Regions from separate parts of the Homo sapiens genome. Here all the other regions are linked to region 5. The links come from fine-mapping of genetic effects on gene expression. A gene starts in region 5. Each other region holds a variant in brackets. All regions are shown on one strand. Distances are from middle to middle. Region 1 overlaps ZCCHC17 (zinc finger CCHC-type containing 17). Region 2 holds the start of LOC124903900 (a long non-coding RNA gene). Region 3 holds the start of LOC124903892 (a long non-coding RNA gene). Region 4 holds the start of LINC01226 (long intergenic non-protein coding RNA 1226). Region 5 holds the start of SERINC2 (serine incorporator 2). Region 6 has its middle 28 kb from the start of TINAGL1. Region 7 holds the start of SNRNP40 (small nuclear ribonucleoprotein U5 subunit 40).

Region 1 (4,064 bases), 79 kb after region 5:
GAGACCTTGGTTCAAAAAAATAAGTAAATAAAATAGGCCAGGCACAGTGGCTCACGCCTGTAATCCCAACACTTTGCAAGGCCAAGATGGGAGAATACCTTGAGGCAAGGAGTTTGAGACCAGCCTGGTCAACATAACGAGACCCCATCTCTATTTTTTAAATATTGTAAATCTTATTTTAAAAATAAAAAACAAAAAATTTAAAAAATGTAATGCTCCATATTAGTAAAGATGTGATAAAATATCTGTAGTTACACAATACTGATAGAAATATAAGTTGGTAAAATTATTTGAAAGCAAAAAGATAAAGATGTTTATCTTTGATGCAAGAATATCATCAATAGAATTTTTTCAAAGGAAAAACTCACAAGAGCCAAAAAACTTACAGAGCTGAAATAACTTGCAGTCTAGCCTGGGCAACATGATAAAACCCCATCTCTACCAAAAATACAAAAATTACCTGGGCGTGGTGGTGCAAACCTGTGATCCCAGCTACTCAAGAGGCTGAGGTGGGAGCACTGCTTGAGCCCAGGAGGCAGAGGTTGGAGTGAGCTGAGATTGCGCCACTGCACTCCAGCCTGGGTGACAGAGCAAGACCCCCATCTCACAAATAAATAAATACATACATACATACATAAATACATAAATAACTTGCGGTATTATTACCTACAGAGGTTAAAAAATATATAAGAACCATAAAACAACCCTAATGAACAATAACTGGAAAACAGCATGGCAAACATAGTAAATCTGTGGAATAAAAAAGTAAACAGCCATTTAAATTAATTACAAAAAATATTTATGATAGACGTTAAGTTAAAAAAGGAAATATAAACAAGCTACTATTTTTAATCCATTAAATTAGCAAAGTATTTAGAAAATAATATTCAATGTGGTGAAAGGATAGTAAAATAAGAACTATTACTAAGGCTAGAATAAACTTTTGGAAGTCACTATCAATGGCTATCAAGAATGATAAAATACTAATAAACTATTACACATTTAATAAAAATAATTTAAAATGAAATAATTGCTGGGCATGGAAGCTCAGGCCTGTAATCCCAGCACTTTGGGAGGACTGCTTGAGCCCAGGTATTCAAGACTAGCCTGGGCAATACAGTGAGACCCCATCTCTAGAAAAATTACAGAAAAATTAATAGGATGTGGTGGTGCATGCTTGTAGTCCTAGATACTCAGGAGGCTGAGGTGGGAGGATGGCTTGAGCCCAGGAAGTCAAGGCTACAGTAAGCTGTGATGGCACCACTGCACTCCAGCCTAGGTGACAGAGCGAGACTTTGTCTCAAAAATAAATCAAATAATATTTTAATAACATTTAATAAAACACTTATAGCAAACATCCTTTTCCTGTCTGTCCAAAATCCTTTCCTTGGGAGAACCACCTTGCTTATTACATTTTACATATACAAATCAGGATTGTAAACTACAAAAAATTGCCAAAGCCAATCTTTACCACCAGATGGCAAGAGTCTGCCAGAGAAAAGCAAAGAAGAGCACTGGTAAACAAGAAGCAAAGCCCTGGGAGTATAAACTGAGCACCCAATACAGCAAAGGCTGAAGTCCCAGCAATAGAGGAAAGAGACAAGGGGCAGAAACATAACTGAGAAACATAACTGAGAGTTATCCTGGAAGCCCCTGACAAGATTGGCCAAAATGTTTCCCAATTAAGTTTCTGCCCCTTGCAACCAAGAGTTCTAATACTTTATTTGACCCCTAATTGCTTCTGGGAACCTGTCCTAAGAAAATAACTTTATACATAGGAAAAACTATATGCTTCAGGAAAAGTGATTTACATCAAAATATTCAATGTATTTTTAAGACAGGAAAATTTAGAAACAACAAAGGATAACAATTAGGTCAATTATGGTATAGTCGCTTGATGGTCCATTCAAAAGATTTTTAAACAAGTCAATAATTCCTTCTTTAGTAAATAGTTATTGAGTGCCTATTATGTATCAAGTACTGTAGGTATCTAGCATTTTCCCATACTAAATAACAAAAGCATAATGCAAAATTATACAGTATGATTACAAATGCTTTAAAAACATTTTAAAAATTAGAAAGAAATGACTTGAAATGCCAACAGTGGTTATAGTATTACAAGTTAACCTTTTCATTTATTTTCGATAATAAATAATAATAGAGGATTACTTCAATTCTGGAGAAAATGAACATAAATAATTACTCTGAATGAATAAAAATCAGTCATCCTGTCTAAAATAACTGCCCTCCCTGAAGTTGCTTGGGAAATTTATCCACCTCTATTCTCATTCTCCCACTCTCTCTTTCACACACACACACACACACACACACACACACACACACACACACACACACACAGAGAGAGAGAGAGAGAGAGAGAGAGAGAGAGAGA[T/GAGAGAT]GCACATGGATGCCTGCAGATGCCTGAAACTCAAAATACCTGCCCTTTCTGTTTAGAGCTCCTACTGGGAGCCACTACTTTCTCTATCCATCATCACTACATCCCACATACCTACATAAGCTGATTCTGGAGGTTGATAGCCTACCTATCTAAACAACTCTGGGGCCTCTAAAATGTTTTATATACATTATGTTTTTAATTTTAGATCAACACACAATCTCCAAATTTGGTGAAATTCATGCAAATGGGGTTTATTTTTTTCCCCTATGATGTAATGAGCCAACTAGCCTAATTTTAAAGTTTGAAGAGGAAATTCAGATCCCATAAAGGGGAAGCCCTTCATCTTGACTTGTTTTTGGCTGCAACTGTCCTCTACTGGTTAAAATTCATCTCTTTCCTCTATTGCTAATGAAAGTTATGATGGAAATTAATGTTGAACCTAATATACTTGAGGGAACACTATTCTTCTTCCCTAAAACAGAAAGTCTATTTACTGGAGTACCACATAGAAATAATGGCATCAAAACTTGTCCTTCTCTCACCTGATTCCATATAACCAGTGAAAAAATGACAAAAGATTTCAAATGAACTTTTTTTGTCTTTAAGTAGCTTAAGCAAGTTAATTTGAAATATTTTGCTCTTTTACGCTATAAATGTATTTATTTTATGCTACAACTGAATTTCCATGGGTCTTTAGAGTATATCTAAGAGTCAGTGAGAGTAAACTATATATATACACACACATACACACACACATATGTATTTTATTTTTTATTTTTTTGAGATGGAGTCTCACTCTGTCACCCAGGCTGGAGTGCAGTGGCACAATCTCTGCTCACTGCAACCTCCACCTCCTGGGTTCAAGTGATTCTCCTGCCTCAGCCTCCCGAGTAGCTGCGATTACAGGTGCCTGCCACCACGCCCGGCTAATTTTTTGTATTTTTAGTAGAGACAGGGTTTCACTATGTTGGCCAGGCTGGTCTTGAACTCCTGATCTCTTGATCCACCCGCCCTGGCCTCCCAAAGTGCTGGGATTACAGGTGTGAGCCACTGCACCCGGCATTTTTTTAAATTCTATTTTATTATTTTATTGTACTTATTTTATTTTATTTTTGGTACAGGTAGCTCTCTCCTGGATAAACATGACCAGTCTAGAAGCGTTAGCAGTGAAAAACTGGAAACAACTTAAAATGATTATGTGGTACATCTGAATGACAGAATAAAGCCATTAAATGTTTATAGAAAATATTTTTTTAATGGGGAAATGTTTAAGGTCCATTACGTGCAAAAAACTACACATTTTAAATATACAGTATAATCTTAATCTCAACATATTAAATTGTGTACACATATGTGAATATACAGAAATACACCAAAATGTTGGCCAAGCGCGGTGGCTCATGCTTGTGATCCCAGCACCTTCGGAGGCTGAGCCGGGTGGATCACTTGAGGTCAGGAGTTCAAGACCAGCCTGGCCAACATGGTGAAACTCCATCTCTACTAAAAATACAAAAATTAGCCAGGTGTGGTGGCAGGCACCTGTAGTCTCAGCTACTTGGGAAGCTAAGGCAGGAGAATTGCCTGAACCCAGGATCATGCCACTACACTCCAGCCTGGTGACAAAGCAAGACTCCATCTCAAAAAAAAAAGAAATACACCAAAATGTTAACAG
Region 2 (4,064 bases), 58 kb before region 5:
GATTTCAGATTTGCATGGGCCCTTTAACCCCTTTGTTTTGGCCAATTTCTCCCATTTGGAACAGTTATATTTACCCAATACCTATACCCACATTGTATCTAGGAAGCGACTAGCTTGTTTTTTATTTTACAGGCTCATAGGCAGAAGGGACTTGCCTTGTCTCAGATGAGACTTTGTACCATGGACTTTTGGGTTAATGCTGAAATGAGCTAAGGCTTTGGGGGACTGTTGGGAAGGCATGATTGGTTTTGAAATGTGAGGACATGAGATTTGGAGGGGCCAGAAGCAGAATGATATGGTTTGGCTGTGACTCTACCCAAATCTAAACTTGAATTGCATCTCCCAGAATTCTCACATGTTTTGGGAGGGACCCTGGGGGAGGTAATCAAATCACAGGGGCCGGTCTTTCCTGTGCTGTTCTCATGAAAGTGAATAAGTCTCACGAGATCTGATGGGTTTGTCAGGGGTTTCCCTTTTTGCTTCTTCCTCATTTTTTCTCTTGCCGTCGCCATGTAAGAAGTGCTTTTTGCCACCACCCATGATTCTGAGGCCTCCCCAGCCATGTGGAACTGTGTAAGTCCAATTAAACCTCTCTTTATTCCCAGTTTCAGGTGTGTCTTTATCAGCAGCATGAAAACAAACTAATACAGCAGTGCTAAGAGAAAAGTTCATAGCCCTAAATGCCTACATCAAAAAGCCTGAAAGAGCACAAACAGACAATCTAGGGTCACACCTCAAGGAACTAGAGAAACAAGAACAAACCAAATCCAAATCCAGCAGAAGAAAGGAAATAACCAAGATCAGAGCAGAACTAAATGAAATTTAAATAACAACAACAAAATACAAAAGATAAAACAAAAACTGGTTCTTTGAAAATATAAATAAAATTGATAGACCATTAGCAAGATTAACCAAGAAAAGAAGAGAAAAATCCAAATAAGCTCAATTAGAAACAAAATAGGAGGTATTACAACCAACACCACAGAAATACAAAAACTCATTCAAGGCTACTATGAACACCTTTACACACATAAACTAGAAAACCTAGCAGAGATGCATAAATTCCTGGAAAGATACAACCCTCCTGGCTTAAATCAGGAAGAACTAGATATTCTTGTTAAAGATCGTGAACTCCAAGTTTCTTTTCAAAGAATCACTATGTCAGTATGTTCAGCTCTCTTTATTCTCCATTTTAAAGTCTAACTTCCTGGTTCTATTGCCCCGCTTGCCTCTAGTTTCAGTAAACAAGTTTCCTGCCAGTTCTAATCAGTAGTTCACATCTGTTCCCCTGGTCACCTGCTTTGTCCTGAGTCACCCCTGGTCACCTGCTCCATCTTGAGTCACCCCTGTCACCTGCTCTGACCTGAATCATCCTGAGTCAACTGTTCTGTAACCACCCCTCCCGCCAAACTTCTCACCCTGTCACTCCAGCTTGTACCCCTGCTCTCTTTAAAATAGCCAATCGGAATTAGCTTACACTGTGCGGTCCAATCCTAGCCAATAGGGGAATGACACAACAGCAGGGACTACCTGCACCAGGAATACGAACCGCTTCCCTCCCCTTGTTCAGGTGTGCTTTCGCCATTACTCCAACCACGAGTCGCACCCTTCTATAGAAGTAAAAATTACCTGGCTGAGAAAATTAAATTTATGTTCAAGTGCTATTTCTCTGCAGCACCAAGGAACAGGCATTTGTTTCTAACAATCTCGTGGCCCATATGGGGAGCTATTCTCCTCTAGGGGTGGCCTCTATTCCTCTCTCACGCCCCACTGCCTTGTTGCGGTGGCCTCAAGAGTCAGGAATCGAGACTCACCTGGTGTGACAAATAAACCTGGACTCAGCAATGTCGAAAGAAACCAGCCGGCGACCCAGGGGAAAGGATCCTCACACACCACAGTGACCAGGCAACTCTGTGCACAGACCGAGGAAGGAAACGCCTGGGAGCCAGCAAAGTATTTCCTTGGTGGTTGGGACAGACCAAGGTAAGAGAAGCCACAGGGGGTGGTGGTATTCCTTGATCAGGACATATCAAGGTAAGAAAAGACACGGAGGAGGTGGGGCGGTGAAGTATTCCCTGGTTGGGGTATCT[T/C]GAGGGTTAAAAATAGGCAAGACATTTCTAGCAAGGGGAATTGAGCCTCACACTAAAAATGGGAAATACCCCAAGTAAGGTAAGGGATAAAAAGGATACACTAGCAATGATAATATTCCCCCTAATAATCCGCTCAGCCTAATGATAAAATATTAGAAGGGTAATGAAAGGACCAAAAACAAGAAAAAGCAGCTGCTGTCCCAGACCCTTCTCCTATCCCTGTTGTCCCTCTCCTTATAATTCTGCCTCTTGGGAATGTTCCCAAGAGCCCACTCACGACCAGCCTGAGTACCCTTCCCTAAAAGGACTTCACACGAGATAGAGCAATGTAAAAAGGATATTCAGAACTTCCCTTTCCCCTCTTCTCAGGGGAAGAAAGAGGCATGATCCATAGGGCTGCAATGGGAGCCTAGGAACCATGAACACCCCGCCCCCGGCTTCCGGCCAAAACGTTCCTACAGCGGATCAAAAATTTCCCACCCAAGACCCCTGGTGGGACAATAACAATGCAGCCAACCAAGAAAATATGCAAGACCTTAAGGAATTGATAATAAAGGGGATTAAAGAATCAGTACCCCGAACCCAGAATCTTACCCAAACATTTGATATACAGCAAGGGAAAGATTAAGGGCCTATAGAATTTTTAGACAGATTAAAGGAATAAATGAGAAAATATACTGGTCCAGGTCTCGAGGATCCCCTTGGACAGGGAATGTTAAAACTTCATTTTGTCACTAACAGTTGGCCAGATATTAACAAGAAATTACAAAAGATAGGGAACTAGAAAGATAAACCTATAGAAGAGCTTCTAAGAGAAGCCCAAAAAGTATATGTAGGAAGAGATGAAGAAAAACAAAAGCAGAGGGCAAAAATTCTGCTGTCCACCATACAACAAAGTACCCAGGGGGCAAGAACCTATAAAGAACCTAGACCCCCACTCTCCAGGCAACATAAAGGGTACAAAAGAGTAAAGCCAGGAGACTCAAAGGTAGAGAAAAAAATCTTAGAGGCGAGAGAAAGACTGACAGAGGGGACAGAGGAAGTCAGAGAGAGAGAGAGGGAAAGAGACAGAGGAAGTCAGAGAGAGAGGGAAAGAGACAGAGGAATTCAGAGAGAGAGAGAGAGAGATAGGGAGAGGAAAAGGGAAAGAGGACAAAACAAATGCTTCAAATTAAAAATAGGTCACTTCAAAAAAGAATGTCCCAAGTGGGAAAAAGAATAAAGTCATATGTAAAAGCAAATCAGCTAATATTAACTTTCTGCTAATTCTGGAAGCAGGGACAAATCTATAAGGAAGAGATTTAATGCTAAAATTAGGCTTAGGCCTCGAAATCAATCATAGAAAATTCCTCCTTTCCCTAAACTTACCACCACAGCAAAAGATGGGAAGCAAGGAAAGTTACAGATTCCTCCAATTCATGTTAAATTAAAAAAAAAAACTATTAAAAACACCTGGGGAAGTAGTAAAGAGAAAGCAATGTACCCTATTTCTTTGAAAACTAGGGTAAATTTAAGACCTATAATTGATAATTGAAGGTCGTCTTGGTGTTGGGCTTCTTAAACCCTGTGTGTCTCCCTATAACACTCCAATATTGCCTGTAAAGAAGCCAGATGGGGGCCAGGCGCAGTGGCTCACACCTGTAATCCCAGCACTTTTGGAGGCCAAGGCACGTGGATTACAAGGTCAGGAGATTGAGACCATCCTGGCTAACACAGTGAAACCCCGTCTCTACTAAAAATACAAAAAACGAGCTGGGCGTGGTGGCAGGTGCCTGTGGTCCCAGCTACTCGGGAGGCTGAGGCAGGAGAATGGTGTGAACCTGGGAAGCGGAGCTTGCAGTGAGCTGAGATTGCGCCACTGCACTCCAGCCTGGGTGATAGAGTGAGACTCTGTATCAAAAAAAAAGAAGCCAGACGTGTCATACCAGTTAGTGCAAGACCTTGGAGCTATTAATCAAATAATCCAAACTACCC
Region 3 (4,064 bases), 38 kb after region 5:
CTAAACAGACATTTCTTTACTTCTCTAATAAACTTGCTTTTACTTTATTCTGCGGATTTGCCCCGAATTCTTTCTTGTGTGAGATGCAAGAACTCTCTCTTGGGGTCTGGATTGGGACCCCTTTCTGGTAACAAAGACCCCATGGACCAAGGGCATAAAAAGAAGGGATGTCTAAGACTTGCTGGTTCTATGGCAGGCAGAGGCAGAAAGAGCCCCACCATCATTCCCAGCAAATGGGAAAAGTTCCCAGTTGCAGATATTAGGGGTGGGATGGGGCGGGGGTAGTCAGCAACCATAGACTTAGACCCTGAAGAGGCAAAAAAGGAGGGCCATGTTCTTGGGTCAGCAGAGCTTCTACTCAGCTTCTTCAGCCTCTAGCTCTTTCCTGGTGCTAGTAGCACATTCTCTAGTGGAGGCATCCAGATGGCAGGGAGGGTCCAGGAAACAGCTGAACATGCTGAGCAGGCCTCCCTTGTCCCCGCTCCCCATGGCCCCATGGATCATCCGGTGCTGCAGCTCATCTCATTGGCTGGCTTCTGGTTACTCATCTCTCCTCTTCTCCATCTTCCCAGCCTGTGGTTGCCGTGGAAACATAGAACAGTGACCTCACCATAGGATGAGGGCTGGGGAGATGCTGTTCTTGGCAGGCGCTGGTCTTGCTGCCTGCCAGATGTTATATCCACATCTGGATCTGCCAAGGGCAAGACAGAGGAGTACAAAAAGGGACAGGGCTCACATTCTTCCCCAAATGTAGTCAGCATAACAGAGGAAGAGGATGCAGGTAGATCAGAGGGATGAGGAGAGAACTGTACATACTTAGAAGGGAGAAGGGTGTAAACCAGGAGGAAAGGAGATGGGGTGTGGCTTATGGGTTAACCTCGGTGACCCAGGTCTGAGCACCATGGCGAGGTGAGGGAAGGGCAGTGAGGGTAGTTGGTCTGAGGTTTGTCGAGTAGAGCTCCTCAAAGCCCCGTGCTGCTCAATTTGGACAGGCCCAAGAGAGGGAGCAAATGGATTTTCTGGCAGTGACCCCACCCCAACCCATTCTGAAAAACCTCTATAGCCCCTTTTTCAGTTGAAGCCCTTTCTAATCCTGTCCCAGAAATAATAAAACTGAGGATTAAAGAAGCAAAGCAATCTGCCTCAGGTAACTAACTCAGTAGGTAGTGGCAGAGCTCAGACTAGGTCTTAGGTGTCTGCACTATCCCTGGAGACAATAACAATAGCAGCAGGAGGAGCAGCAGCAGTGAACTTTCGTAAGTCAACCATGCTTAGCATTTAAATGTATTATCTCGGGCCAGGTGTCGTGGCTCACACCTGTAGTCTCAGCACTTTGGAAGCCGAGGCAAGCAGATTGCTTGAGGCCAGGAGTCCAACACCAGCCTGGGCAACACGGCAAAACCCTGTCTCTACCAAAAAAATGCACAAAAAATTAGCCAGGCGTGGTGCCATGCGCCTGTAGTCCTAACTACTCAGGAGGCTGAGGTGGGAGGATCCCTTGAGTCTGGGAGGTCAAGAATGCCATGAGCTGAGATCATGCCACTGCACTCCAGCCTGAGTGACAGAGTGAGACTCTCTCCAAATAAATAAATAGGCCAGGCGTGGTGGCTCATGCCTGTAATCCCAGCACTTTGGGAGGCCAAGGCAGGCGGATCACTTGAGGTCAGGAGTTCAAGGCCAGCCTGGCCAATATGGTGAAACCCCGTCTCTACTAAAAATATAAAAATTAGCCTGGCGCGGTGGCCCGCGCCTATAGTCCCAGCTACTTGGGAGGCTGAGGCAGGAGAATCACTTGAACCTGGGAGGCTGAGGCAGGAGAATCACTTGAACCTGGGAGGCAGAGGTTGCAGTGAGCTGAGATAACACCATTGCACTCCAGCCTGGGTGACAGAGTGCAAGACTCCATCTCCAAAAAAAAATCCCTTCATTTTAAAGATGAAACTGAAGCTGGCGTGGTGGCTCATGCCTGTAATCCCAGAACTTTAGGAGGTCCAGGTGGGCAGATCACCTGAGGTCAGGA[G/A]TTTAAGACCAGCCTGGCCAACATGGCGAAACCCCGTCTCTACTAAAAATACAAAAATTATCCAGATGTGGTGGCAGTTGCCTGTAATCCCAGCTACTTGGGAGGCTGAGGCAGGAGAATTGCTTGAACCCAGGAGGTGGAGGTTGCAGTGAGCCAAGATCACACCACTGCACTTCAGCCTGGGCAACGAGACTCCTTCTCAAAAAAAAAAAAAAAAAAATGGAGACTCAGAATGGCTTAAGTGAATTGCCCAAGGCCACACAGCTAGTACCCAACAAAATTCAGATCAGAACGCAGATCTGCCAGCAGCCATTAGCCCAGCCCCAGCTCTCCATCATTGCATTACAAGGGCCACATAAGGAGTCAGTTCTAGTTCCTGGCCACACAGTCCTTGAGAGGAGGCCCTATGTGTGAGGGCTGCGACCTTGAGTCAGAAATCATCTTTTCCCCCTCCTCCTCTCCTGGCACCTGTTCCAACAGTGAGATCACCAAGGCTCCATGCCCAGCCCTGAAGCCTGTCCCTATAGCTTTGGCAGAAATGAGCCTCTGAGTCTTCTGGCAACTGGACCGTCCAAAGGAATCAAGATCTTAGGGTGGGGAGAGGGCTCTTCCTCCCTGGCCTTGTTCTCAGAACAGTCCAGGGAAGGGAGGCAGGGTTTGCACATGGAGAAACAGAGTCCCAGGAAGGAGGGCCTGCCATACTCTACGCACGTGGCAGGCCTCTGGGCTCCTGTGTTGGCTCCTGCAGGCCCACCCTGGACAGGCTGCTGCTGGCTGAAATTCAGTTCGGCACTACTCCTTGGTGTGCAGGGCCTCCTGCCATCCCTCAGAAATTCATTTATACCTCACTTCCTTTGAGAAGTCTACATTGGGCCCTCAGGTCAGGACAGGACAGGACTCCCTTTAGAGGCACCACGCTAGTTTTATGTCTGGCTGCCCAGAGGTGAATGTGTGTCTTGTTCCCTGTTGTCTCTCTCCAAAGCAGGGCCTGGCACAAAGTAGGTGCTTTATTAACTGCTGAATTAATGAGTGAGCTCCTCAGAGCTTCAACTTGTTCACCTTTTTAAAAAGAGAAAATAATACAGTAACACCTACTTCATGGATTTTGCTTTAAAAGTCCAATGAGGCCAGGTGTGGTGGCGTGTGCCTATAGTCCCAGCTGCTGGGGAGGCTAAGGTAGGAGGATCCCCTGAGCCCCGGAGTTTGAGGCTGCAGTGAGCTATGATGGCGTCACAGTACTCCAGCCTGGGAGACACAGCGAGAGACTTTGTCTCTAAAAAATAATAATAAAATAAAAAGTTCAATGAAACAATACACCCAAAGCCCTCAGCATGCAATAAATAGCAAGACAAGGCAGGTCTTATTTTTACTGAAAGTGCTTAGTAAACTATACAGTGACAAACCACCGCACAACAGGCTCTCGAAAGGAGGCAGCAAATTACCCAAAAGTGCAGGCGGCTTGCTAGTGTGCACAGGCCAAAGAAAGGGCGGCAGGTGGGGAAGGCAGCCATGGGCCTTGAAGAGCTGACCGAATTGGCAGAATTTCTGCAGGAGGGGAGCTGGGAACGACCTGAGCTAAAGCTCGGAGCTGTGCGAAGAAACCGGAAAAGCCCAGAGCACTTGCAGGGGCGGGTGGGGAGCTAGATGGTGGGGTGGGGTGGGGACGGAGGAGGGCCAGCAGGAGACATTCCGCAGGGAGGGGCAAGCACGTGTGAGGCGGGCGGGGCGCGAAGGGTCAGGCTTTTGCTCAAAACAGGCAGAGGACAAGGTCAGCTCAGCCGCAGACCGAGCCGCTGGTGACTGTCTCCGCCACCAGGCAGTGAGAGTGAAGGGAGAGCGCGAGCTCTGAAGCCCGCTAGACTAAGCTTGCAATCTGAGCTCCATTCACCCCCTCCTATTTCTTGAGACCTTGTCAGTTCCCCTGTGAGCCTCGGACTCCTCACTTGTAAAACGAGGACAGATGCCCGTGCCAGAAGTCAACCAGAGCTTTCCCCGGCGTGGGCACCAGCCCAAGGGCGTTTTGCTTTTCTAGTCTCATCTCTGC
Region 4 (4,064 bases), 110 kb before region 5:
GTCTGGGTAAATATTAGGCTCTTGCTTTGCTAGTAATTAGGGTGAGCAAATGTGGACCACAGCTGAATTGTTTAGGACAGGAAAGAGAAGCCAAGGACTGTCAAAAGAAACCTTCCTTTTTCTAAACCTTCCTCCACATAATGTTGTTCCTCCTCCAAATAAATGTTAAACTAGTTTTAGTTGAAATTGAGAGCAAAACCCACAAACAATAAAAAGGAAGTCAGGAGAGGCAGAAAAAAATGCACAGAACAGAAGAATGTGTCATTAAGAGTTAAACATCATCAGAAACAGAAGAGATATGCATAAAACAAGAACACTATGCTATGGAAAAGAAACAATCAGAGAACAAGAAAGAGCTCTTAGAAATTAAAAATGTAGGCCAGGCGCAGTGGCTCACGCCTGTAATCCCAACACTTTGGGACGCCAAGGCAGGTGGATCACCTGAGGCCAGAAGTTCAAGACCAGTCTGGACAACATGGTGAAACCGGTCTCTACTAAAAATACAAAAAATTAGTTGGGCCTGGTGGGGGGCGCCTGAAATCTCAGCTACTTGGGAGGCTGAGGCAGAAGAATTGCTTGAACTTGGGAAGCGGAGGTTGCAGTGAGCCGATATCATACCATTGCATTCCAGCCTGGGCAACAAGAGCTAAACTCTGTCTCAAAAAGAATTTAAAAAAAAAATAAAAAAGAATAAAAATGTAATAGCTGTTTGGTCAGGATAGGGTCAATGCTGTAACAAACCATCACAATCTCAGTGGGTTGTGACTAAGAAAGCTCATTTCTTGTTCCCATCACAGTCCCATTCTTCCCCAAGTCACAGGAAGGAATTAGCTCCATGTAGTCATTCAGGGACCCAGGCAACTTCCTTCATGAGGTCTTGCCATCTCCTAGGGTATTGAAGTACCCTACTTCTAGCCAGCAGATGAAAAAGAGCAGGAGAAGAAAAGAAGATACAGAAAGAAAATAAAAGTTACTGGGCACCGTTGGGGAAGTTGGGGCACCAACTTATTACTCTAAAAATTGTTAATTAAAGGAAAAGAATTAAGCATTTTTTATGCCTAACTGCATTTTCTGGTAATTAAATAGCCAAAATGAATGAAGGAAAGCTCTTCTATGCAGAAGAATTTCAGCTACTACATGAAGAAAAAATTAGAATCAGAAAATTATCATTTTTTAAGCCCCTAAGAAAATAACTGATTCAAGCAATGGTTTTCAATGGATGCCAAAATCACTCAGTGAAAGGTTGATGGAGAACTTCTCAGTGAAGGGTAAGGTTGCCATTGCCTGAACCTAAAGATAGATCTTAGCATCATTAAAAGCAAGACCAGCAGACATCATATGCCTCCAGGTGTGATGCACTGGAGACTTACAAGGTATCCCATGAAGTATAAAGAAGCAAGTGACTGTATCCCTAGTGTAAAAACTCTACATGAGAATTGACACAGTTTCTTCAGGAAGTCAATAGCACTGAGAACAAATATAGGAAGAGGAATTAATTTATGTTAAAAGAGAGTTAGAGGCTGGGCACAGTGGCTCATGCCTGTAATCCCAGCGATTTGGGAGGCTAAGGCAGCCAGATCACTTGAAGTCAGGAGTTTGAGACCAGCCTGGCCAACACGGTGAAACCCTATCTCTATTAAAAACACAAAAATTAGCCAGGCGTGGTGGCCCACACCTGCAGTCCCAGCTACTCAGGAGGCTAAGGCGCGAGAATCGGCTGAACTGGGGAGATGGAGGTTGCAGTGAGCCAAGATCACACCACTGCACTCCAGTCTGGGTGACAGAGCGAGACTCCATCTCAAATAATAATAATGATTTTTAAAAAGTCAACTAATAACATAAGGTGATGAGTCTGGAAAGGATGGCAAGAAAGCACACTTCATAAATATGAAGGAAAATGAAGAAAACACTTGTGTTAGGGTTCTCTAGATGGACAGAACTAATAGGATATATATATATATATAAGGGAGTTTATTAAGTATTAACTTACATGATCACAAGGTCCCACAATAGGCTGTCTGCAAGCTTGAGGAGCAAGGAGAGCCAGTCCAAGTCTCAAAACTGAAGAACTTGGAGTCTGATGTTCAAGGGCAGGAAGCATCCAGCATGGGAGAAAGATGTAGGCTGGGAGGCTAGGCCAGTCTTGCCTTTTCACCTTTTTCTTCCTGCTGTATATTCGCTGGCAGCTGATTAGATGGTGCCCACCAGATTAA[G/T]GGTGGGTCTGCCTTCTCCAGCCCGCTGACCCAAATGTTAATCTTCTTTGGCAACACCCTCACAGACACACCCAGGATCAATACTTTGCATCTTTAATCCAATCAAGTTGACACTCAGTATTAACCATGGTAAGTCCACCCCTTGTCAAGCTGAACCCATACACATCTCCTGAGATCATACATAATCTTCAAATAAAGACAATAATAAGGTCATAATTATGCCTAAAATAATACAACTATCCTTGGTACAACTGGAAACCCACCAATCCCCAACCCAAATATTATTACATAAAGTTAATAATACTTAAATGTTGATATGAAGTCAGTAAATCTTATGTCACATGATAAAGGAAAAGGAAATAAAATGGATATATTTTCTTCGTACAAGTGTATACATGCACAAACATGTTTTTAGCCAAAGAAGGAGGAAATACTCATGATAGTTACAGTCCGCATTTCTGCAGCTGGTCACATGGTCATAGGTGGTATTGATGATTACCTTCTTCTACTACCCATTCTGTATTCCCTTTGCCTTCAGCAAGCACCTCAGCAGGTTGTGGTTTTTTTCCTGGTGGAGTGACCCAAACCTTCATTCCTGAGGGGTCTGGGCTATTTGTAGTCCTGCCTGGATTGCGCTATTGTAGTTTCCCATTGACCTTAATCAAAGGGCATGGTAATACTAAGAGATGCTCTAAAGGATGTCCTGTATTCCATGCATACTCTTCCTTACCTCTGTTATGGAGTAGTAGACTGATTTTATCTTGATAGTTCACCTTCCCACTCCATCTCCCTTCTGGCTCCCCCATCTGCTGAGAGCTACTTCCACTCAATAAAAACTTGCACTCGGTCCCTAAGCCCACGTGTGATCTGATTCCTCCAGTACACCAAGGCAAAAACCCTGGGATACAGAAAGCCCTCTGTCCTTGTGATAAGGCAGAGGATCTAATCGAGCTGATTAACACAAGCTGCCTACAGATAGCAAAACTAAAAGAGCGCTCTGTAACACACACCCATTGGGGCTTCAGGAACTGTAAGCATTCACCCCTAGACACTGCCGTGGGGTTGAAGCCCCACAACCTGCCCATCTGCATGCTCCCCCTAGAGGTTTGAGCAGCAGGGTACCAAAGAAGCGAGCCACACCCCCATTGCAGGCCCTGCGAGGGGGATAAGGGAACTTTTCCCATTTCACTTGTGCTGTGATTCAGTTCCCTGGGTGACTCTGCAGGGAGGCTGGAGGGAGAGAGTTCTCCCAGAGGGACCATCCCACACCCACTTCCACCTAAGAACACCCCAGTGGGGCAGAGCAGGCCCTCCCTGCTCCACCCCAAGCAGGGCTTGTGCCCTGGCCTTTCTGGGGTGTGCTCCTGCATACTTCAAGCTCAGCCAACATGAGATACTCTGACTCAAGTGTAGGGTCAGGTGGGGAGAAATGAATGAGACCGGATCAAGCCAACCCAAGCCTATGCACCGAGTTAAGGGTGTACACACTCACTGGGCAATGGGGCAGGGTATTATCGTCCCCATTTTATGGATGAAGATATTAAAGTTCAAAAGTTTAGATGGCTTGCCCATGGTCTCACAACTGCTGTGGAGTGTGGTAGTGAAGTTCATGGACTCTGCAACCAGACTGCCAACCTTTGAGCCTGTTCTGCTGCTGATCTGGGCAAGTACTTGACCTTTCTGTGCTTCCATTTTCCTCTGCCAAATGGTGAGGCTAACACATGCTACTTGGTAGGGTTGTTATGAGGACTGAATAAGCCAATACACATGAAAGGCTGAGGATAACTTTTCCTTTGCAGTCACAACTACGCTGTTAGGTATAAGAGGCCTACCTTTCGGCCTATTTTGGCT
Region 5 (4,064 bases):
GGTGAGGGGCTCGGAACAGTACCTGGCTCAGTAAATGTCAGAGGCCAGAACCTCAGTAAATGTCGGAGGCCAGAACCCCAAGGGGATGGCACTGAAGGGAGGGCCGGGTCCCTTGCTGATATTACTCACTAAGTTATCTCCCAATTCTTCCCTGGACCAGCCCTGTGCCTCAGGCAGCCAGGATGTGGGGAAGGGAGGGAAGGTGTGGGCAGAAGCCTGGACCAGGAATCAGATGTTGATCCTAACTATGCAGTTCTTCATCCTTTCCCTGTGCAACCTTAGGAAAGTCAGCTATCTTCTCCGGGCGGGTGGCAGTCTTCTCATCTGTAAACAGATGGTTTGAGCAGTCCTATCTGCTCTCAGCATTGTAGAATGCTGTAACTCAGAGACCAGCACTTGGCTTTGCATTGTCTCCAAATGGAATTCTCCACCCACCTTTCCTTGATGTTAGCAATAATTCCCACAAGGAGCACTCACGATATGCCAGGAACTGTGCCTCATCTCCCAACAGCATTGTGAGAAAGGCCCTGTTACTGTCAACTGCCAGATGGGGTGACCAAGGCACACAGGGCTGGCAGGCTGCCCCTCAACATCTCCACCCCCAGGCCAGCCCAGCAGGGCCTGTGCCTCACCAGGTGCAACCGATGGAAATCAGGTCCACTGTGGAAGCTCTGCCTCCCTCACCAGGAAGCAAACCCTTGTTGGCAGAGACCTGGCCCAAACCTTGAATTCTTTGGGCTGGGAGGGATTTCAGGCACCAGCTTGATTCCTCCTCCTGCACACGCACATGCACACGCACACACACACACGAAAAATGGAGGCCTAATGAGGCGAGAGGCTCTCTTGCCTCTCTGTGCTGTCTATGCTGATCTCATTCTCAGAAAAAGGCTGTAAAGTAAATCTCTAGACCCTCAGCTCTCCCCTACACCCCCTCCTCTCTCTCTCTCTCTCTCTCACACACACACACACACACACACACACACACACAACCCGTCAGGGACAAAGGAAAGCGAGTCCCGAGATTCAGCAGCCGCTGCAGCCCCTTCTCCCTCTCAGGGCCTCTTTGTGTGGGGCCAGAGGGGGAGGGGGCTGCCTGAATGAACCTCAGATTTAATGAGGGGAAGAGGAAAGGAGAGGGGGGCTGGGGAAAGGGAAGGGAGAACGGGCCTCCCAGCCGGGGTCTTGCTGGAGCCCCTCCCCTCTGCGGCTGCAGCTACAGAACAGAGGTTGGCCTCCCCACAGGTCCCGAACCCGCGACCGGGCACTCCCCGCGCACACCCGAACCTCCCTCGATTCCTGCTCTCCCAACCCAGAGTTCCGCCCGGTGGTCCGTGACGACCCGCACCCGCCTCACTCGAGGGCAGCTAAGAAAGTCCGGGGCTCCCTCCGCTCCCATCCCAGTCTCCGCGCTGGGGCCCAGATGATCCGGGGCGAGCTGGGGAAGTGCCTGAGAGGCAGCGCGAGCCAGACTGAGGACGGTAAAGGGACCGCAGAGAGACTGAGGGACGGACGGGCGGACGGGCAGACGGACAGAAGACAGCAGACGGACAAAGACAGTCGGACGAACGACGGACACAGACAGGAACCAGACAAATACGAACGGACAGGCGGAGCCCGAGCGACAGGAACAGGCGGACTGGCAGGCGGCCAGAGGGGTAGGGCAGGGCACTCGCCAGGAGGGACGGGGCCCGGGCGACCTACACAGAGAACCAGGGCGTCCGGGACGGGGACAGAGGCCACCCCGAGGACCGCCCCAAGTGGGGCGACGAGGGCCCACAGAGCTGCCCCGACCCCGGGCTCCAGGCTTAGTCTCTCCAGGTCCCAGGAGGGCGCCCGCCGAGGGCACTCCCCTCCTGCCCGCGGAAACCCGAGCCGGGACCGCAGCTGCCCGGCGCCTGCCGGCCAGGACTGAGCAGGGGGACGGGGGCAGCGGGATCCGGGTGCCGAGTGAAGGTCCAGGAGGGCGAGCAGGCGGGGCACCGGCCCAGAAAGACAAGTTTGCAGGAAGGAAAAAGAAGAAACTACTCGGAGCAGAACAGAAGAAAGTGAGGGCCCGCAGCAGGAACGGGCGGCGCGCGCGGGCGGGCGCCGGGGTCGGGACTCACGCAGCTGAGCAGGGAGCAGGCTCCCAGGCAGGCCCCCATGGCGGCGGCTCCCGGCTTCGGGCGCCCGGCGCCGGGCGCGGGGCGCGGACCTCGGGATCCGGGTGCCGGGCCTGGCCCCTCCCCGGCCCCGGCCCCGCCCCGGCCCCGCCCCACCTACCGAAGCCGCTCGACGCTTTCCGGCGGCGCTCGGGGCCTCCCCAGACTCACCTGGGGCAGGTGCGCCAGGAGGGACCCTAGGGAAGGGGCCGGTCGGGGATTCCCGCGGCCACGCGAGCGGCGCAACCTGACCCAATCGTGGCCCGGGCTCGCATCCTGCTCCAAAGTGAGCGTTCGGAAATCGACCTCGGTTTGAGCCCGTGTGACCCCAGGACACTGTCACCCTTGGGAACAGAAGCCAAGAGGTGGTCACCGCTGACTCCTCAGTGCTTGGCGCAGGGCCTCTGCTCAATACGTAGATGCTGAGGTTGAATGCTGAATGACTGGATAAAGAAACTTCGGCAAGTCACTGCACCTCTATGAGCCTCAGTTTCCCGGTCTGTAAAGTGAGGATACATACCTCACAGGGTGGTTACAACACATGGTAGGTGCTTGACAAATGTAAGCCCCCATCGTCACTGTTTTCTTCTTCCTTTTTAAGAGACAGGGTCTTGCTCTGTCACCCAGGCTGGAGTGCAGTGGTGCAAACATAGCTCACTGCAGCCTCGACCTCCTGGGCTCAAGTGATCCTCCTGCTTCAGGCTCCTGAGTAGCTGGGACTACAGGTGCATGCCACCATGCCCACCTACTGCTTCTTCTAAGACCCCAGCCTCTCACTCTAAACCCATCCTCCCTTCTCTCCATCTGTTCTTCAAACTCCACTGACTCCCAACAGCCTGCTGGGAGCTACACACTCCCTACAGCCACCCCTGCTTGGTGGCTTATCACTCCCTAGGGATGCCCAAACTGGTCCCTAGCTAAGGAGGTCAGAAGGTGGGGAGGGGCGGCCACATTCCTGACAGATGGCTTTCCAGGGGTAGGTGTGAGAGACCCAGAAGTAGGGCTCTGTAATTAGTCTCCCTTCACCCTTAGCCCTGTCCTCAGCCACCTCTGGACAAGATAATGTTAGGGAAAGAAGTCTCTGTGCCTCGAAGCTGGCCCCAGGGCCAAAGAGCTGGTTGACTGCATCCTTGGCTGATTCACTGGGCGCCAGGCTTAGCCATTAATTGCACCAGGACTGTTCCACAAACACACCCTATACTTTTCCTCCTCCGCACTTTTGCCCACACAATGCCCTCCTCTTTTTTTTTTTTTTTTTTTTTTTTTTTGAGACAGGGTCTCACTCTGTCACCCAGGCTGGAACACAGTGGCCCAATCATGGCTCACTGCAGCTTCAACCTCCTGGACCCAAGTGATCCTCCCACCTCAGCCTCCCAAGTAGCTGTGACCACCAGTGTGTACTACCACACCCAGCTAATTTTTTAAAAATTTTGTGTAGAGATGAGGTCTCCTTATGTTGTCCAGGCTAGTCTCGAACTCCTGGGCTTAAGCAATCCTCCTGCCTTGGCCTCCCAAAGTGCTGGTATTACAGATGTGAGGCACTGCACCTGGCAGATGCCCTCCTCTTAAAGGTCCTTCTCCTTATCCCTCTTTCTCCCCTTTGAAGCTTGCTCACATGCCATACCTCTCAGTGAAGAGAGCCACCACCCTCACCCCCAACCCACTACCTGGTTCCATTAGGAATGAACATCCTCCTGATTCCCCCAAGCCTCCAAACAATATGGGCCTCCCTTATGGCCTCACAAACAACCCGAGCACATGCCCAACTTTCCCCCGTGGTACCATTTGAGCCCCACAACAGCCCTGAGAAGTCGATTAATTCCCCACCCACTCGTTTACAGATGAGGAAACCGAGAAACAAAGAAGTAGTGACACGCGAAATGTAAATCAAGCGTCGAATAAACGTTGACTGTGATCACTGTG
Region 6 (4,064 bases), 130 kb before region 5:
CTGGAAAATACCAGCTAATTGGATAGCATTTGAGTAACATATGGGAATTGCCAATGGACTTACTGGATCACAGACTTATTTTACTCCCACACCTTATTTCTTGAACACTACTCGTAGGATTTGAACAAAGCATACTCATATCTATAAACTTATAAATAGTCACTTTATTTGCAAGAATGACTCACCACTAGCAGCAGACAGGGCCATCAACACGCTTATAACATGGTGACAGCTGCAAGCAAGACTGACTCTGTCCTGACCTACCTTCCCTGTGCCAGTCCGAGAAGTGTTGACTTTGACCTTTGACACTGCATGCCACTGTTTTCTGCTCTAGCCTTTGACACAGCGTCAATGGCTTCCTTCAAACCAGTAACAGCTCTATGTTGATGGTTAAGTTTTAATTTTCACAAGAGAATAATAATAGTTTTTCCTGCCACCGGAGGTTGGTGTTGCACAAGCTGAGAGAGGAGAGAATTTCAAGGAGGGAGTGGTCAGCTATCTGGGGACTGGGAGGAGGCTGTGGGCTGACTGACAGGTCAGTGACATGGCCCTCTGAGAGAACCTTCTACAAGGATCTACACGGATCGCTCCACGTTCTTCACGGGTAGTTGTGTGTTGAGGTGTGGGCTCCACCTCCCTGGCCGCCTGTGTTCCTGGAACCCGCCCAAACCTTTCAGCCTCTCAGGGCCTTTGTGACGCTGCTCCCTCTTCCTAGGGTGTCTTTCCCCGTCCCTCTCACCCTTCAGGTCTTCCCTCCACTGGCAACTCCTGACCACCCTCTCCAGTCGCTGTCTCCTTGTTCCTTCCCGGCACCCATCGCCATCTTTCATCCTCTCACTGATTTACTTGTTGATGGTGTGTCCCTCCCTCCCGCTCCCCTACAGGGCATGTCAGCTATACGGAGCAGCGCTCTCTGCTGTCTCATTCCCTGCAGAGCCCCAGCACCTAGCACATAGTAGGTTTCCAAGAAATATTTATTGAACGAATGAACAACTGAATAGATGGGGTAGGCAAGTGCAGATGAAAGCTTAAAGTCACCTCTCTGGACCTCTGTTTCCTGGTTTGTCTGATTTGTCAAAGAGATAAGAGCTCCGGTCCTCCCCTTTGAACCAGGCATGGTTAGACCCAGACCGTGAGCAAATCCTACGTGGGTGCAACACTGAGAATGGCCAGTAGGTGGCAGTAAGTCACTGTGGTCGAACTGGGACAAAGCCTGGCCCAACCAGGGCGCAAAATACCTAAAGTTTAATCCACCAAAGTTTATTTCCACCACGAGGCATGCAAGTCTCTCTTAAACACAGCACGCGTGCCCCTGCTACCCTGAATGGAGAACAATGAACCTCCATTTGGATTCAAATCCCAACTCTGCCACCAACTACTAGGTGGCCAGAGTAAATGGCCTCTGTAAAGTGGGAGCATTATGAGCGCGCAGTGGGTAACGGATGTGGAAAGACAGCATGCCGGAGCAGGGCGAGGACAGCAGGCAGCTGGCCGTAAATGGAGCCTGGGCCTGCAGGGAGCCCACGGCCACCTCATACTCCAAGCCACGCCCCCCGCCCACGTTGGCTCTTCCCCAAAGCCCTCCACCCATTCTGCTGCTGCACCCACGCAGCTGCATGTGGCTGAGGACAAGGTACATCAGATGACTGGCCTCACTCCAAGGTGACCCCACAAACCTGGAATGGGCCCCTGTGCTTCCGGCAACCCAACCAGGCTTCACCGGCCCATTAACTCTCCCACCCCCATCCCTCTTCTCCTCGAGTCCTCACCAAGACCCCCTCCTGCCCCCTGGCTATTGGCTGTGACCTTGGTTCTTATCTCACTGAGAAAAGAGAATCAGACGAAAATGCCGCATTCTCAGGATGCCAAATCTTCCACCAACCAGCACCACCCAGGTACCACAGAGGTACACACTGAGGGCACATCCTCCCTCATGCACAGGGTGCCAAGCCCTTTCACCACCCTGGGTTTTGCCCTGGCAA[G/T]TCTCACCTTTCTCTTCTGCATTTTTTTTTTTTTGAGATGGAGTCTCAATTTGTTGCCCAGGCTAGAGTGCAGTGGCACAATCTCAGCTCACTGCAACCCCTGCCTCCAGGGTTCAAGCGATTCTGTTACCTCAGCCTCCCAAGTAGCTGGTACTACAGGTGCCCTCCACCACACCCAGCTAATTTTTTTTTATTTTTATTTTTAGTAGAGGCGAGTTTTCACCATGCTGGCCAGGATGGTCTCGAACTCCTGTCCTCAAATGATCCACCCACCTCAGCCTCCCAAAGTGCTGAGATTACAGGCGTGAGCCACCACCCCCGGCCTCTCTTCTGCATCTTAATTACTTTCCCCTCTATGGATCATGCCCGTCAGCCTAAAAACAAGCTGTGATCTCTCTCATTCAGAATAAACTCTCCCTTGACCCTACGTTCCCTCCCTCTAGCTGCACTCCCATATGTCTGCCCTCGTTTACAGTGCAACTCTCCGGGAGAGGGGCCCATGCTCCACCCATCCCCACCGGGCCCCACTGCAGTCCACCTGCCCTTGCCACTGAAACCCTCAGGATCACCAGTGACCTCGGTTCTTCCCAATTCCATTCTCAGCCCTCAGCCCACGTCTCAGCAGCATTTGAGAGTTGAGTGTTCCGTCCTTGCAACATTACCTCTCTTGGTTTCTGTGACTTTGTCTCTTCTCTATCCGTGGTCACTTCCCAGCTGTCTCACTGACCCAGAGAATATAAAGTCCACCCAATGCCAATCATTCCCACGTGTGTATCTCTCATCCTGACCTCTCCCTGGAAACCAGATTCTTCTATCTGGCCCTCGCTGGAGGTCTAACAGGCTGCTCAAACTTAACTTGAACTCTTGATTTTAATCCCACCTAACCTGCTTCTCCCTCAGTGTCCCTGTCTGTCTAATGGCAGTTCCGGCCCCAAATCCTGAAGTTGCCCTTGACTCCTCTCTGCCTTACACCCCACATCTGATTCTGCAGCAAATTCTCTGGGTCCAACCTTTAAAATCTGTGCTGGACCTGACTGCTCTCACCATCTGCACCACAAACAGCCTACTCCATGCCCCCTTATTTTTGCCAGGAGTGACATAAGTGGCATAGCCTCCTCCTTGGTCCTGCCACATTCTCTCTGTCTCTCTTGCATGCACCGCATTCACCTGCTTAGAATAAAGTTCAAGTCCCGACACAACAAGGCTTGACAGGAGCAGTGGGGACCCTTCTCCTGCCTCATCTCCTTACACTTCCCTCTGACTCACTCTGCTCACCCACTCAGGACTCCTTGACGCCCCCCCTTTTTTTGGTACAGTCTCCATTCCAGCCTTGGAACTTGCTGTTTCAATGCCTGTAGCTGCGACCCAGCCAACCGCACAGCCCCTCCCTCTTCCCTTCAAGTCTCTTCTCCTCAGAGAAGCCTCCCTGACCCCTCTACCTAAAGTAGCCCCGCCCTCTACCATTCACTATCCCTTCATCCTGTTTAATTTCTCTTCACAGCACCAATGCTTCCACTTCATCGTTTCTTTATATGTTTTTTTATGCCGTCTTCTCCCAACTGGAAGGTAAATTGCACACGTGTGGGTTCTCACCCATCTTGTTCACCATGTGTTACCTGTGTCTGGAGCAGTGCCAGGAAGACTAGGACCTCACACTTTTATTGAGTAGATGGATGGATGGATGAATAGATGCATGCATGGATGGACGGATGGATGGATGGATGGATGGATGATGGATGGATTCATGGATGGATGGGTGGATGCATGGAGGGATGGATGGATGAATGCATGGATGGATGGATAGATGCATGGTTGGATAAATGGATACATGGATGGATGGATGGATGGATGGATGGATGCATGGATGGATGAACAAATGGATGGATGGATGGTTGCACAGATGGATAAATGGATACATGGATGGATGGATGGTTGCACAGATGGATAAATGGATACATGGATGGATGGATGCATTCACGGATGGATGGATGAATGCATGCATGTATGGATGGATGGATGGATGCATGCATGCATGCATAGATGGATGGATGGATGGATGCATGCATGCATAGATGAATGGAT
Region 7 (4,064 bases), 120 kb after region 5:
TTTAACTCAGTTCCAAATTCAATTTTCACCTTAGGTGCAAGGGAGTCAAGAAAATGGTTTTTAGTTTTCCAGATTTTTCAGGAAGAGAAGACATATTAGAGGTTAGAATGTGTCTTGAGCAAGCGATGTCCTTGCCATACCCAGAAAGGTTTTCTCCATGCATGCACTAAACCGCTGGATATGCTGGAAAAAAATTTTTTTTTTCCTTGCATCCTACATTTCTCTAGTAACCTCATTCTCCCACACTCCACAGTGACTTTCAAATCTTCTACAATATTCTCAAATTTCTCAAAACTGGATCCTCAACTGGATCCTGGATAATCCCTTATCCCCATCGGTTAGCACATCCTCTCCTCCTCTTTACAATCAGATCTATGAAAAATACTGTGTAGGTTCACTACCTACATTTTCTTGTCCAAATCCTTGCCTCATATCTGGCTTTTGGCCCAATCACACCAACAAAATAACTCTTGCTAAGGTTACTGTGACCTCCATGATGATAAAAGCCAAAATATGTTTTTCAATCTTCATGTTATTTAAATTCTAGAAATTTCTATCACAAATCATTCTTTTGCTTCTGAGACATTCTTCCAGTCCTCCTTCCTTTCTTCTGTATCTCCTGTAGGTTCACCTGTTCTTCACCATTAAATGTTGGAACTAGTCAAGGTTCTGACTTAGCTGACCTTACCCACACCTATGGCTCAATTCATGTATATACAAATTATGCCCAATTTTATATTCCCAACACAAATCTCTCTTCTGAGCACAAAGCTGTATTTCAAACTGCCTCTTGGATGTCATGAATGACCCCACACAATCAATCAATCAATCAATAAAAACTGATCTCAGCTGGGAGCAGTGGCTCAGGCCTGTAATCCCAGAATTTTGGGAGGCTGAGGCAGGTGGATCACTTGAGGCCAGGAGTTGGAGACCAGCCTGGCCAATATGGTGGAACCCCATCTCCACCAAAAATACAAAAATTGGCCGGGCACAGTGGAGGCGCCTGTAATCCCAGCTACTGGGGAGGCTAAGGCAGGAGAATTGCTTGAACCTGGGAGGTGGAGGTTGCAGTGAGCCAAGGTTGCACCACCACACTCCAGCCTGGGCGACAGAGCAAGAACCTGTCTCAAAAAAAAAAAAAAAACAAAAAAAAACTGGTCTCTAATCATCTTCTAGTGTTCCCTATCCAGCTTGAGGGATTCCGTGATAGTGAGTGAATGGTACCACCATCTATTCAACTACATAAGCCAGAAACCTAGGAGTTACCTTTGATTCCTCTCTTCACTCCCTAAAATCAACCCATCACCAAGTCCCACCCATTTTACCTCCTATATACCTCTAGAATCTGTCCAATTCTCTGCAGTTCCACCCATATCTCAGTCCTCACTGACATCTCTGACCAGGATTACTGCATATCCCAAGTGGTCCACATACATCGACTAGGGCTTCCCCAACCCCCGTCTGTTCACACCACTGAGCCTGAGGGATCAAGTCCCCTCCTCCACCACACCCCACTGGGGGAAGACGGCTCAGTGGTATCTCATCCGTTTTAAAATAAAAGCTACAAATTCCTGCAAGGTCTGACCGCTATCACGTACAGCTTCATCTTGTACCATACTCCCTTCATTCTCTTTGTACCAGCCACACTGGCTCTTTGTGCTTTTAGTCATTTTCCTCCCAAGTGCCTCAGGGCTCTGAACAAGTAGTTCTCTATGGAAGGTTCTGCCTTCACTTCTTCACCTAATTAATTACAACACTTCCTGCAGCTACCAGCGCAGGCATCTTTTCCT[C/T]TGAAAAACCTTCCTGCTTATTTCAGGCACTCATAGCATCAGGCAGCAGTAGGAGGCATTTCCATGTATTAGTGAGGTCATTGTTTAACGTTTTCCCCACCAGAGTTAAACGCCCTGAGAGTAGGGACCGTGCCCGGTTCACAACATACCCCCAACGCGCTGCTAAATGAATATCAGCAGGACGACTGAGGCAATGACCACGTTCATGGGCATGAGTCTCAAATTTCTCAACAAGACTGTGCTCTGGAGAAGGAGTCGGACATTTCCTTCATCACTGTCTCTCTCAGGGGGGCATACAGTAGGCCCTGATCAAAAACTGCAAAATCAGTGGCAGAAACAAGTCAGCCTCCTCGGCCAAATGGGGCACCGGAGGAGGCTGGGACGCAGGCCTTTCTCCCTGGGAATGCCCGGCACAGGACTGGCCACGATGGGCGCTCTTGAAGAAGGGAGCCGCAGGGGCTGGGTCTTGCCGCCAGAGACCCCAAGGCTCCGCTCCTGCCCCGAAAGGGAGCCCAGGCTACTACTTACCACAGCTGGGGACTCGGGGCCCGCCTCCCACCCCTTGCTGTCAGCACCCTCAGCTGAGAAGGGCAGGTTCAGACTGCACAACCGAGGCGTCGCCTCCAGACTCAGGCAGCCACCCACCCCGTTCTTCCTCATACGTACTAGGCGTCAGCTCCAGGTCCCCGAGTCGCTGCGCTGAACTAAACGCCGACCCCAGTCAGCCAGCGCGTTTCCACCCACAAGACCCAGCGCGCCTAGGGCGGTCGCCAGCTCCGTCCACCAATCCTGGTATCGCACTCTCATGACGTCAGAAAGATATGCCCAATAACAAGAGACTATCCGAGGGCGGTGCAAATGGAAATATTGAAAGCCGATTGGTTCTTCCAAGCTGGAAGTTGTGGAGGAAGGACTAATTTGGAACCAATTGCGTGGCGCCTGAGAGCGGCAGCGCGGTCAGTGGCGGCGCTGAAGAGACCGGTTGCCGCCATGATAGAACAGCAGAAGCGTAAGGGCCCAGAGTTGCCGCTGGTTCCAGTCAAGCGGCAGCGGCATGAGTTGCTGTTGGGAGCGGGGTCTGGCCCAGGAGCCGGGCAGCAGCAGGCGACGCCGGGAGCCTTGCTGCAAGCGGTAAGTGAAGAAGCAGGCGGCCTTTGGCCCTCAGCTCATCTTCCTCCCCTCAGAGCGCTGTATCTGGTGATCCCTGACCCTTTCCCGCATTGCGGGGGCAGAACGAGAGTTTCTACGCAGAGTTAAAGCACATAAACACTGTAAAAGCTCCCCATAGCCTGCGAATGCTGCGTACGTGTTCCCCCGTTTGGCGCCCGTTTTCAGCCTCTCGACTGCCCTGAGATAGCATTAGAATTAGAGTTGAGGACCTTGGGCTCAAAACCCTGACCCGGGTTTAAGCATCCTGACTCTAACATGGATCTGGCATAGAACAAAAATTCCGAAGAGTGTGTAGAATGAATGAATGAGGGAGGGAAGAAAAAAGGGAAATGATTTGTGTTGGCTCGTTTTGGGACTTTGGGCAAGTTGCTTTTCCCTTTATTTCTCTGCACTAGTATTATTAACAACTAAATAGCAGCTAACATTCATTGACTCTTGTACTAAAGTGTTTCGTATATGAAATTTCCATTGATCTTGGTAGCAGCCTGTTAGGAACGTTATTAACCCATTTTGCAGATGGAAAAACAGACTTACCAAGTACGTGATAGAAGCAGATTTCGAACTGAGAAACCATGCTCCTAACTACATTTTTTGTAAGATAGAAATAGTGATCACACTTCTAATGTCCTGTTTAGGCTCAGACGAGGAAATACGAGTGTCCTCACATCTCCTCAATAAATCCTGCTGGCACCGTCCTCAAAATAGGTCTAGAATTGCTACTTCTACCATCTCCATCATTGCCTCATGGCCTAAGCCATTATTATCTCATCTGGCATTTTTGTAGTGGGACCCTAACTGGTCTTCCACTTTCTACCTTTGTATCAGCACCTGTTACCAAGCCAATAACCAAAGGAATCCTTCTAAACATCAGATCACATTACACTCTGCAGAAAACTTTCTGGTGGCTTTGTACTTCATCCAGAGTAAAAACCAAAATTCTTGTAATTATTTGCCCTCTTTCCCTTTACCTCTCTGACCAATTTCTTATTGCTCACCTGGCTTCAGTTACTCTCTCTTCCAAGCCTCTGCTTCAGGACCTTTGCATTTGCTGTCCTCTCTGTGGGATTGCTCTTCACAAATGTTTACATGGTTTACTATTCAGCT

Evidence for each region. PIP is the estimated chance that this variant, and not a neighbour inherited with it, causes the effect.
Region 1: its variant is fine-mapped to the expression of SERINC2 in whole blood (INTERVAL, PIP 0.99).
Region 2: its variant is fine-mapped to the expression of SERINC2 in left ventricle (GTEx, PIP 0.99).
Region 3: its variant is fine-mapped to the expression of SERINC2 in whole blood (INTERVAL, PIP 0.97).
Region 4: its variant is fine-mapped to the expression of SERINC2 in monocytes after LPS (Quach 2016, PIP 0.95).
Region 6: its variant is fine-mapped to the expression of SERINC2 in sun-exposed skin (GTEx, PIP above 0.99).
Region 7: its variant is fine-mapped to the expression of SERINC2 in whole blood (TOPMed, PIP above 0.99). The same link has a PIP of 0.9 or more in lung.

The regions. Positions count from the first base shown.
Region 1 is chr1:31,332,632-31,336,695 of GRCh38, reverse strand. All of the region lies in intron 3 of ZCCHC17 (zinc finger CCHC-type containing 17), which reads right to left. Among named protein-coding and RNA genes, the nearest start is that of ZCCHC17, 38 kb to the right of the region's middle. The variant T/GAGAGAT (reference allele first, on the strand shown) is at 2,393.
Region 2 is chr1:31,468,985-31,473,048 of GRCh38, reverse strand. LOC124903900 (a long non-coding RNA gene) reads left to right here and starts at 1,573. Exons shown (of 2, transcript XR_007065585.1): 1 at 1,573-1,983. It overlaps LOC105379772 (a long non-coding RNA gene), which reads right to left and starts at 1,931. Exons shown (of 3, transcript XR_001737618.2): 1 at 1,815-1,931. RefSeq lists an enhancer at 1,088-2,287. The variant T/C (reference allele first, on the strand shown) is at 2,091.
Region 3 is chr1:31,373,439-31,377,502 of GRCh38, reverse strand. LOC124903892 (a long non-coding RNA gene) reads right to left here and starts at 3,204. Exons shown (of 2, transcript XR_007065573.1): 1 at 3,116-3,204; 2 at 16-691. RefSeq lists silencers at 407-701, 3,947-4,064. The variant G/A (reference allele first, on the strand shown) is at 2,021.
Region 4 is chr1:31,516,763-31,520,826 of GRCh38, reverse strand. It overlaps LINC01226 (long intergenic non-protein coding RNA 1226), which reads right to left and starts at 2,392. Exons shown (of 3, transcript NR_027085.1): 1 at 1,991-2,392. The variant G/T (reference allele first, on the strand shown) is at 2,214.
Region 5 is chr1:31,411,346-31,415,409 of GRCh38, reverse strand. It overlaps SERINC2 (serine incorporator 2), which reads right to left and starts at 2,197. Exons shown (of 10, transcript NM_178865.5): 1 at 2,106-2,197. The coding sequence starts at 2,144. RefSeq lists enhancers at 130-678, 1,949-2,449 and silencers at 2,173-2,232, 2,313-2,382.
Region 6 is chr1:31,546,171-31,550,234 of GRCh38, reverse strand. No RefSeq gene overlaps it. Among named protein-coding and RNA genes, the nearest start is that of TINAGL1, 28 kb to the left of the region's middle. RefSeq lists enhancers at 88-157, 828-1,067 and a silencer at 1,138-1,257. The variant G/T (reference allele first, on the strand shown) is at 1,983.
Region 7 is chr1:31,295,468-31,299,531 of GRCh38, reverse strand. SNRNP40 (small nuclear ribonucleoprotein U5 subunit 40) reads left to right here and starts at 2,744. Exons shown (of 10, transcript NM_004814.3): 1 at 2,744-2,921. The coding sequence starts at 2,781. It overlaps ZCCHC17 (zinc finger CCHC-type containing 17), which reads right to left and starts at 2,500. Exons shown (of 8, transcript NM_016505.4): 1 at 2,457-2,500. RefSeq lists an enhancer at 2,766-2,975. The variant C/T (reference allele first, on the strand shown) is at 1,791.